Homo sapiens: one gene and its partners. The main gene of each other region encodes a partner of the protein of the gene in region 3 in a complex. Each region holds a gene or a part of one and is shown on either strand. Other genes may lie near its edges. The genes, in order: IQSEC1, RYR2 and CALM2.

Region 1 (3,650 bases), on a different chromosome or scaffold from region 3:
CTACCAAGGGGCATAGCCTGGATTAGAACTCAGGCACCTGGCCTCAAAGCCTGCTTCTCAGTGCAGCAAACCCCACAGGTCTCCCTGAAGCTCAGTGACCCATCTGGCCACAAGAGCTGCCTGGTTGATGCTGTGGAAAGGAAATGAGTCCAGAAGCCTGTGGGCCTTGCTGGGATCTTTAGCCTATCTCTTGAACTGTGCATACTTCTTCCAGGGTCTCCAAATGGGTTTCGTTAGATGGCATACCTCAAGATGCACCAGGGCCAGGGGCTTCTGTGACCCAAGACACTGGGGACACTCAACATAGTGTATCTCACTGCCTTTTAAAGTTTCTGAGGCCCTGCATGGTGGCTCACGCCTGTAATCCCAGCACTTTGGGAGGGCGAGGCGGGTGGATCACCTGAGGTCAGGAGTTCAAGACCAGCCTGGCCAACATGGTGAAACCCCATCTCTACTAAAAATACAAAAATTAGCTGGGCGTGGTGGTGGGTGTCTGTAATCCCAGCTACTCGGGAGGTTGAGGCAGGAGGATCGTCTGAACCCAGGAGGCGGAGGTTGCAGTGAACCGAGATTGTGCCATTGCACTCCAGCCTAGGTGACAGAGCGAGATTCTGTCTCAAAAAAAAAAAAAAGAGGTCTGAGAGAGGAAAAACATGGTTGCACTCATTTTAACTTGGTGCTTCTCTGTCCAGTTTGACCTTGGGACTCATATTTTGCATAAGCCCACCAGCATCCCTCAGCAGTTGCTTTGACCAACTTTGGGACCTTCCCAGGTCGCACAGCCACGTGGCTAGGAAGTGGGAAGGAGTTTGGTAAATGTCGCACTGTGCCTACATGCAGTGCTGTTCTCATTCTCCTCTCCCACCCGCAGGTGGAGATGCTAGAACGAAAGTATGGGGGGCGCCTGGTAACCCGCCATGCGGCCCGCACCATCCAGACGGCGTTTCGCCAGTACCAGATGAACAAGAACTTCGAGCGCTTGCGCAGCTCCATGTCAGAGAACCGCATGTCACGCCGGATTGTGCTGTCCAACATGAGGATGCAGTTCTCCTTTGAGGGGCCTGAGAAAGTGCACAGCTCCTACTTCGAGGGGAAGCAGGTCTCAGTGACTAACGACGGCTCCCAGCTGGGAGCCCTGGTGTCCCCTGAGTGTGGTGACCTCAGCGAGCCCACCACCCTCAAGTCTCCGGCCCCCTCCAGTGACTTTGCGGACGCCATCACCGAGCTGGAGGACGCCTTCTCTAGGCAAGTGAAATCACTGGCCGAGTCCATCGACGATGCCCTCAACTGCCGCAGCCTGCACACTGAGGAGGCACCGGCCCTGGATGCGGCGCGGGCCCGGGACACCGAACCCCAGACAGCCCTGCACGGCATGGACCACCGCAAACTGGACGAGATGACGGCCTCGTACAGTGATGTCACCCTGTACATCGATGAGGAGGAGCTGTCGCCCCCTCTGCCCCTCTCGCAGGCAGGGGACCGGCCGTCCAGCACCGAGTCGGACCTGCGGCTACGGGCTGGGGGCGCAGCCCCAGACTACTGGGCCCTGGCCCACAAAGAGGACAAGGCTGACACGGACACGAGCTGCCGGAGCACGCCGTCGCTGGAGCGGCAGGAGCAGCGGCTGCGGGTGGAGCATCTGCCGCTGCTCACCATCGAGCCACCCAGCGACAGCTCTGTGGACCTTAGTGACCGCTCGGAGCGGGGGTCACTCAAGAGGCAGAGTGCTTACGAGCGCAGCCTTGGCGGGCAGCAGGGCAGTCCCAAGCATGGTCCCCACAGCGGCGCCCCCAAGAGCCTCCCCCGGGAGGAGCCTGAGTTGCGGCCCCGGCCCCCCAGGCCCCTGGACAGCCACTTGGCCATCAATGGCTCAGCCAACCGGCAGAGCAAGTCTGAGTCGGACTACTCAGACGGTGACAATGACAGCATCAACAGCACGTCCAACTCCAACGATACCATCAACTGCAGCTCCGAGTCATCGTCCCGTGACAGCCTGCGGGAGCAGACGCTCAGCAAGCAGACCTACCACAAGGAGGCCCGCAACAGCTGGGACTCGCCTGCCTTTAGCAACGATGTCATCCGCAAGAGGCACTACCGCATCGGCCTGAACCTCTTCAACAAGTGAGTACCATGGGTGACCCCTCAGGGTGGGCAGCTGTGGCTTGCTGGGCCTTGGCGGGTGGGCGTGGCTGCATCCTTCCAAGCACGGAGCTTGAGGTCCACCGTGGCCTATGAGCATAGGAAGCTGCCACACAAGGTCGGTGGCTAGGACGGTGCCAGCCTGTGCGCTGAGGCCTAGCCCCTCCTGGGACTGCTGGTGGGGATGGCAACACACACAGGCTGAGCAGGGGCAGAATGGGAGCTTTCTGTGCCGAAGCAACTTGAGTCCCGGGCCCTTCCGTCCCATCCCCCCCAAGTCCGCCATAGCAAGTGGGGTATGTTGGGCCATGCCCTGCGCAACTTTGGATGTCAGGCCTAGGGGTGATGTGGGACACAAAGGCCTTTGAGCAGGGGTATGACCGGTTGTGTCAGTGGGGGGCAGGGGCAGACAGGCGAGACCCAGGGCTGTGTCTTGTGGGGGATGCAGGCCAGACCTGAGGCCATGTCTGGGGGTAGGAGTGCTCAGGGGCAGTTGCTGGCCAGACCCAGAACCGTGTCCTGGATGGAAGGAACTCAGACAGATGCAGGCCAGACCCAGGGCTGTGTCTGGGGGTCTTGGGGAGATGCATGAGTTGGGTTCATGGAGTAGCTGCTCCCCAAGGGGGTCCTGGAAAGGTGCCGTTGACCATCCTGAGAGCAGATCCAAGGAGCGATGGGTATTTAAAGCAGACTATTCTTAGCACAGCCAAAAATAGCAAGAGGAAGGGGAGGAGGGCTGAGCACTTGGCCTGGGGAACGTGCAGGCTCCTGTCCAACCTGAGATTTCTCGTTATTTCCACTCCCTGGGCTACTGGGATTTGGCCTCATCAGATGCTGGCCTGGCACCAACTCCCCTGGGCTGGTGGTTCCTGACACACATCCGGGGAGCCAGGGGCAGACGACAGTTTTCCCAGGAGGTCAAACTAGGGTGATGAATGGCGCAGTGGGACCTGGCCACCTCAAAGCCAGTGCCTGAGCTGGCTCCCTGCTCCGTCTGCCCCCTGTTCTCTCTTCTTCTAGACTGGGGGAGATGGTGCTTTTGAGCCATTCCTGGGACACATGGAAGCACTATCTTGGGATGTCAGAGAGGCCTGTCTCAGGAAGAGCCTCTGGGGAATGGTGCATTCACTTGGGGCCAGTAAGGGGCAATGGCTTACTGGTTTGCTCAGCTAAGAACAAAGAGTCTTGGACATCTCACATCTACCAGGATGCTCTCTCCTGAGCCTGTGATCTGCCTGTGGCTTGCTGCAGAGTACGGCTGCTCTCACTGCTGCACAGGCCACGGCCGGAGCAATGCGCTGGACAGGGGAGGGTTGCATCCTGCTGGCCCACCTGACACGGTCCCTGAAGTCTGTCCCCACTGCTCCTGGGCACAGCCGAGCTCCAGGATCATCTCTCGACCCAGGCCCATGTGCCCTAGAGGGGAGGCTGGGATAACCAGGGGTCCCTGCAGAGTGGACAGGTGGAGGCCAGCAGTGGGGAGACAGGAAACCAGGAAAAACCACCTCCCT
Region 2 (3,650 bases), on a different chromosome or scaffold from region 3:
ATTTTACCTTTCTCCGACCATTTATCACTAATAATTAATAAAATGTATGGAACTGATTGGGAAACTCAAGCAATGGTCAGAGAATGCTCTGACCCTGATGCTCTGTGGGTGAGTTGGGACCGTGTTGGGCATCGGTTTCCCATGATGCTTGGTGCACTGTTAACTACAAGGACAGACTTGAGAGAAATCTTGTGGCAAGGAGAAGATCGGGACAAGAGAAAGGATCCTCCTGCCCACAAGTTTAATGTGAACATCACTTGAATGCGTCCAAATGCAGAAAGAAGGAACCTGCTATGAAGGAAGTAGGCAAAGATAGTGGGGGTGGAAGAATAGAGGTAAGATCTCTTCTGGAAGCAGAAGAGTAGGAGTGTTGGTGGGTGAAATTCTGAGATGAGGACACCGGAGGTGTGTAGGGTGAGAGAGGCCAGGTGATGATTGCTGCTTTGGGAGGCCGCAGTGGCTCCCAGGTCCAGTGGGAGGGGACACCCGGAGAAGGCAATTAGAGAGAGGGAAGTTACAGTCACTAGAGCAAATGAACAAAGGAGAGTAAGAGAATAAATTAAGGATTAATTGAGTCTGAGTGATTAGGGCTGCCCAAAAGAAATACTGGTTTAGAGTCAGAAGCTGTATTTCAAATGAGCAGCTGTCAGGGGGTGAGGTGACTTCCAGGGGCACTGTTAGAGTGTCCAGTGGATCAGTTTCATCCCCTTACTTTCCTCTTTATTAATCACGGGAAGAACATTGGGATGAGGACCCTGCCAACAAATGGTTGTGTGACCTTGGGGCTGGTGGGGTCAGATAGAGATTTGTTTGAGAGAGGTAAAATGGGGAGGTTGTTTTCTCAGAGGGACTTGCGGTAATTTCCATTGTCATGTTCGTAGTCTTAGGGTCAACCAGACTCAAACCATTCTGCAGGATGAGCATAACAAAATCTCACCCTGGGACTGGAAAGAAAAGCTTTGAATGATCCTGGGGTCCCTGGAAATCCTCATCCTGGTGGATTACAGGCCCTGAAAGCTGACAACAAGCTTTGAGCCAGGATTCTTGATGATGGGTGGTTTTCTTTCAGGGAAGAGGAGATGTTAACAATAAGAGAAGCTTGCAGACAGGCATTTAGAAGGAGCTAGGAGAAGAATTCTCTCATGTCAGTAGCCCTCTTAGGGACTACTTAGGTTCGGATCCATTTAGTAACTGAACTCCTAGTGAGCTTGTTTGCAAATCCTCTCTATTGTCCCAGCCGTGAAGTACTTCTCTGGCTTCCATAGTTACCTTCTCCCTGGCTGGTGAAGAAGTGGCCCATGTTTCTGGGGTTTCCCAGAATGTTACAGTCAGCCTCAAAGCCCATGTGGAAGGTATATTTCCTGGTTTCTATTGCAAAAGTTCTGTAGTGGTGTTGCTGCAATGAAATGGAAGTCCAAGGCATTCCCTGTTAGTGACGGAGTGTTCAGAGGACCTACACGTAATTGCTTTCATGTTCGTTACCCAAGTAGGGGACAGAGAGAGAGGAGCCACTGACACGTGAACCCAGGGAGACCTCCCCTGGATGGCTGGGTGCAGGTACTTACCACCCACCAACCGATGATGAGTATCTGCCAATTTACTGGAAGAAAACCTGAAATCTAGCTGTGGAGCCAAGATAGATGCAGAAGAAAGCGAGTGGAACAGGAGAAAGTGTATAGGAACTCAGAGGCTGGCAGGGCCTTCCTGAGTCTGGGAAGGGCTGAGGCGGGAACGAGGACACATTTGCTCCCTGGGACACGTGGTTCTTAGTGTGCAGGGGAAACCCGCATGTGGTCACTGAGGGAGAGGCACAGGCCCACACATCTCATCACCATGAAGGAAGGAACAATTCAATGTGGCCAATTTGTTTTTCTACTATGGCAAGCACTTTTTTTCCTTTAACATTTTTGGTATTTTAAGAGTTTTTGCACATTTATTCTGCTTCTAATGAAGTTTTAATTGTTTCTCTTTCCTCCTGAGTTTAGAATCTGATTCATAATGTACATGGGAACCCATGAATTTCACTCATATTTAATGCATAACCAAAGATATAAACTGAAATGATACATTTTGAGAAGATCAAGAAAAGAAAAAGAAAGCTTACAGGAAAAATGATATCCTTAGTCTTGAGTCAATTGGGATATTGTTAAAATGAAGCCGAACAGCACACTGAGGTGATAGCCACTAGAAGTTGTATTCTCTTCTTTTCCACAGCAGGTTTCTGGTTTTCAAAATAAAAGCAATTATGATTTAAATTCTTCTAGCTTTTGCTAGAGTTTATATTTATTTCATAATCAAAGAAACTTTACATGAGGAAAGTTCGGTCTCACACACACGCACACATGTGTGCACAAATGAATGAAAGATATTCCACCATATTTTTTTTCACCAATTTTGACTGTGGTGTAGAATTCAGTTAAATTAGTTCATGTGTAGCAGTGAATTGTCTGTTGATCTCTGTTATTTCTTCCAGTGCTTTGGGGTTTTTATTTTTATGGTTCCTTTCCCTTTGTCTTTCCCTTTCCCTCCCCTCCCTTCCCCCTTCCCTCCTTTTCCCTTCCCTCCCTTTCCCTTTCTCTCCCCCCCCTTCCTCCCCTTTCCCTCCCCTTCCCCTCCCCTTCCCGTTCCCTACCCTCTCCTCCCCTTCTCTCTCTCTCTCTCTCTCTTTCTCTTTATCTCTCTCCCTCCCCTCCCCTCCCCTCCCCTCTCGTCTTCTCTCCTCTTCTCTCCTCGGGGCTCATGAGTGAGTTACTTTTGAGAGATGCTATTTTGATAGTGGCAGGACCAGCAACAAACCTGTACCATCTCAGCATTCAGGAACAATGGTGTCCACATGTCTTTTTGAGGTTGTACAGGGCATTCTTAAGGCACATTTGAATAGTCCCACAGGCTGAGAGGAGTTCCTCTGATCTTAAATACAGCATCAGCCTGAGGAGTAACCATTTCTAGTCAGGAGATCAGAGCTTTTTTACGCCGTGGCCTACCTACTGCTGTTGGCAACTTTATTTCTTGTAGGTGCATTGATATGTAATTGTCTGGCAGGTCTGTTCTAAGCATTGCATGTGTATTTTCTCATGAAATCCCTAGAAAATCCCTCAGAGGTAGCTACCTGCAAAGAAGTGAAGTGAGCCCAGTGTTTGCAGACACAGGCAGTGGAGCGACAGTTTCAGACCTGGGCAGGCTGGCTCTAGAACTCTCACTTAATCTTGCCATACAGGGGCCCTTTCTGCTGGAGATGGACATATTTTAAAATGAGAGGGAAACTTGGTGCCCTGCTTCTACCTGCAGGAAGTTACTTTATAATATCAAATGTGAATTTCTTACATTACCAGAGCCTTGCAGGCTGTGTGCCACATCATAGGTCCTGTGTTTAATGTTTGTGGAATTGCATCGAACTGATTCCATGAGATAGTATTTTACATAATAAATACAGAGTAGGGTAATTATATGCAGTTTACTAGGGTACCTTAATGCAGTGTGTGTGAACGGGATACCTCTTTTATCTGTAGCATTATACCAGGTACCTAAGAGATACCATGAAGGTGGAAGCCATAGTTCCCGTAGAGTTCAGATGCTCAAACAGTGAAACCTTATATGCATCAACCTGGGAACAGTAAGCTTATGGTTCTAGGGGGATTGTGTCCTGTGTA
Region 3 (3,196 bases):
AGTTAGTGCTAGGAAGTCTTCTTGATTTATAGTAGGCTTTAATCTGGATATTGCTGGTAAAAGTTTATTCTAAAACCTGAACTCTGGATAAGTAATACAAAAAGCTTCTCAACCTTCCAAGCAAAATTGAGAGCTTTCAGGTTATGTGAGTAATTTGGTCTCTTGGGTGCTTAATTCATTCCTTGAAGCTCATTTTTGTGATCTCTTCCAAGATTGCATTTGCTTGGAGGTAGGGAGTTAGACAAGATGGTATGAGGTCCCTAAATTTTGACTTTCCAAGCAAAATTGGACAGTGGTTCCTAAATTGCTAACATCCTCGTTTCTTCCTAAGGCTTCTCATGTTTCATATATAGTAGCCTTCCCAAAGTCCCATTTCCCACCCCCCCCCCCCCCCCAACCCATGTAGAGAGAACGAACCTGTCTCCCTTCCTGTACAGAGTACGGGATCCTTCAACTTTCACACAGGCTGCAGTGTCTGCCACACATTTAGCTCAACTTTTTTTTAGCCTTAAAGTGATGTCCGCTGCATCTGTCGCTGGGTTGCACCTTGTGGATTTAGTTTGCATAAATTTTCTCAGCTTAAACAAAGTTAACATTGAATAGAGTAAGCTTACCATAAAGGGCTTAATAAATGCCATGCATGTCTACATTCGGTGTGGAAATTGAGCTAGTCAGGTTGATATTTAACATTGTAGGTTCTTTGTTAATTTATATGAAATAATGGTTATCATTTAACTCTTTAGGTTAGCTTTGTACATAGCATCTCACTTTGCACAACAACCCTGCAAGGTAAGTATTGTTATTCTTGTGCTACAAATGAAGTTGACTGAGAGGAGGAGTACCACGTCCAAGGTCACACAGCTATTAAATGGCAGGGCTGGGATACTGGCCTGTGACTCAGAACTTGATGCTTTCCCCCCACGCCACGCATGCCAGGTTGCCCTTCCTTTCAGAAATGGTGGAAGTCCTGCAAAATGCAATAAACTGAAGTAATGTAGCTTCTATTAATACAAAGTAAATAACTCAGATTTACTGGATTTTAAACCTTATTCCTTGGGTAAACAATCTGTGACTGACTTCACACCAAATATTTGTTGGCGGAGGATTTGGACTTTAGGGATAAAAGTGGATACATTTTTTATTTTACAAACTCTGTATTTGAACTTAATTATTGGCTCTTCAATTTTACGTTACCAGCTTTTTTTTTTTTTTTTTTTTTTAATGAATTTGATTTACATCATGGTCAAACAAAAATTGTTGAGCAGGGAAAATAAACTGCTTTCTGGATTCCTTCTTGAATTTTCTCATGTGCCCTAGAGAAAATGTGTTCCACATTAAGGTGTTACTTTTTCCAGGGGTGTGTTCATTTAAAAAGAATGAAGCCAGGCAATGTTTATTTTTCTTTTACCTATAAATAAATGAATGGATTAATCATTGTATACTTGACTCCCATGTTGGTAGGGATTTTAGATAGGAGGCTATTTCTTGTCTGTGCTTCTCAATACCCCATAAGCAGTTGCTTCATGGATGTATATACTAATAAGCAGTGAAAGAAAGTGCATGTTCAAAGAATACAACAAGGAGTCTGGATATTTTGCAATCATCTTTATATATTACGGTGCTCTGAATTAAAAGCTAAAAGTTACTGGGTATGTCTGACACCTTAGTGCTTTATCTTTGTTCTACTAATTTTCTGTGCCCCAATCCCACTTAACCCTAGCCTCATTCCTTATCTGTAAGATAGGGGATAATACCACTGTAAGGTTATTATTAAGATTGAATAAGGATAAAATTTATAATGGGTTTTAGCAAATGGCAGAAAATATTTTCTGAAGAAAACCAAGTGCTATTAAAAAAACATCACAAGCCTTGGGCTTACTTTGGGATTTTAAAAACCAAGAGAAAATGGATGGCTGAACTTTCAAACATTTGGTAAATATTATAGTACTGTAGTTCAGAGCTCTGGATTCTTTGCATTTTGCCTGCTGGGTGAGAAGGAATAAAAGTTTGTGCCTTTTTTTTTTTTTAATCACTTTAATTTCAAAACAATGTGTTTAACCATTTGTGGGAGTAATTTTCATTTTGTGAGCCTGAAGCATTTTGATTCAGTGGGAATTTCTGGTGATTTATATCTGGAATAGAAGTGAGCTTAAGTTTAGCTATTCTAACGTTGAAAAAGGAAGCAATGTTTCTATTGGATTCTAAAGTATATTTTCAAAAATATTCTGAAGTATTTGTATATCTTAAACTTGGAGTTAAGACAGCTTAGCTTTGAAGATAAGAGAAACTAGATGTGTGCATTTTCTATCCAGATGTGTTTGTTGCTGGAACTAAATGAAACAGTACATGGTAACCCTTGAAAGGTTTTAAACTTGTTTCTGTAACTGCTAATCTACATACTCTCAAGTCACTAACCTTCCTCTTTGATCTCTTTGTAGGCTGACCAACTGACTGAAGAGCAGATTGCAGGTGAGAAATACTCAGCTAGATTGTACCCATTAGATTCTTATTATAAATTGAATAGCCAACGTCAGAATAAGAGACTTGTATGAAATAATTGACTTTGGTATATGTCATGGATACTAACATATGGGTATAATATAATACAGTAATTCAACCTGCTTTGGCAAGTGGGATTGTAAACTTGCCGATGGAAGATGTGCAGGGCTAATTGTAGTTAAAGACATGTATTTTAGTCTGCGTGGATATACTTTGGAGCCTTGTGGTGTAGTGGTGGTCTTTGTTTTGTTTTCTGAAGACTACCTTAGTATAAAACAGGAATTCTGGGCTAGCTAACACGCTAGAAAAGGAGGCCAAGAAGTAACTAAGGCAACTTGAAATGGAGAATCAAAAAAGGAACAATTGAATTTACCCTAGTTAAAATTAGCTAACATTTTAACCTAAGAATTGCATATATAATCAGTCAGGGAATAACCATTTCTCAAGTGAAAAAATTTAAGAAGTTGGCATTCTATTCTATAAATGTCACTGTAGCAATGTGGATTTTTCTCTTAAAAAACAGTGACAGCTGTTGAAATGAAGCCGCTTAAATCTTGTCCCTTTTAGTTTGCTATGGAAGTATGCAAAATTATTACATAAAACCTGATGTCATGTTCTCTTTATGCCATGCCATAGAACATTAATACTTTTGATTTATCCTTGTACATTGAGATGGCTGGTTAATGTCAATGTTGGG

The links.
Region 1: the proteins of CALM2 (region 3) and IQSEC1 are in contact, whole or in part, in a crystal structure (PDB 7VMB), measured with the Homo sapiens proteins. Residues at the interface, in NP_001734.1 of Homo sapiens: Glu85, Ile86, Ala89, Phe90, Val92, Phe93, Lys95, Glu105, His108, Val109, Met110, Asn112, Leu113, Gly114, Glu115, Lys116, Leu117, Thr118, Glu121, Glu124, Met125, Arg127, Glu128, Phe142, Met145, Met146; in NP_055684.3 of Homo sapiens: Val121, Leu124, Glu125, Lys127, Tyr128, Gly129, Val133, Thr134, Arg135, Ala137, Ala138, Arg139, Thr140, Ile141, Gln142, Ala144, Phe145, Arg146, Tyr148, Gln149, Lys152.
Region 2: the proteins of CALM2 (region 3) and RYR2 are in contact, whole or in part, in a crystal structure (PDB 7KL5), measured with the Homo sapiens proteins. Residues at the interface, in NP_001734.1 of Homo sapiens: Glu12, Phe13, Ala16, Phe20, Leu33, Met37, Leu40, Gln42, Glu48, Asp51, Met52, Glu55, Met72, Met73, Lys76, Met77, Asp79, Thr80, Ala89, Val92, Phe93, Leu106, Val109, Met110, Asn112, Leu113, Glu115, Leu117, Met125, Ala129; in NP_001026.2 of Homo sapiens: Phe4246, Ala4247, Leu4248, Arg4249, Tyr4250, Asn4251, Ile4252, Leu4253, Thr4254, Leu4255, Met4256, Arg4257, Leu4259, Ser4260, Lys4262, Ser4263, Lys4266, Gln4267.

The regions. Positions count from the first base shown.
Region 1 is NC_000003.12:12,933,919-12,937,568, reverse strand, and holds part of IQSEC1 (IQ motif and SEC7 domain-containing protein 1), read left to right. Parts: intron 1-871; coding exon 872-2,121; intron 2,122-3,650. UniProt on the Homo sapiens protein: Guanine nucleotide exchange factor for ARF1 and ARF6. Guanine nucleotide exchange factor activity is enhanced by lipid binding. Accelerates GTP binding by ARFs of all three classes.
Region 2 is NC_000001.11:237,048,638-237,052,287, forward strand, and holds part of RYR2 (ryanodine receptor 2), read left to right. Parts: intron 1-3,650. UniProt on the Homo sapiens protein: Cytosolic calcium-activated calcium channel that mediates the release of Ca(2+) from the sarcoplasmic reticulum into the cytosol and thereby plays a key role in triggering cardiac muscle contraction. Aberrant channel activation can lead to cardiac arrhythmia.
Region 3 is NC_000002.12:47,170,007-47,173,202, reverse strand, and holds part of CALM2 (calmodulin-2), read left to right. Parts: exon of another isoform or gene 1-743; coding exon of another isoform or gene 744-789; exon of another isoform or gene 790-2,438; coding exon 2,439-2,469; intron 2,470-3,196. UniProt on the Homo sapiens protein: Calmodulin acts as part of a calcium signal transduction pathway by mediating the control of a large number of enzymes, ion channels, aquaporins and other proteins through calcium-binding. Calcium-binding is required for the activation of calmodulin.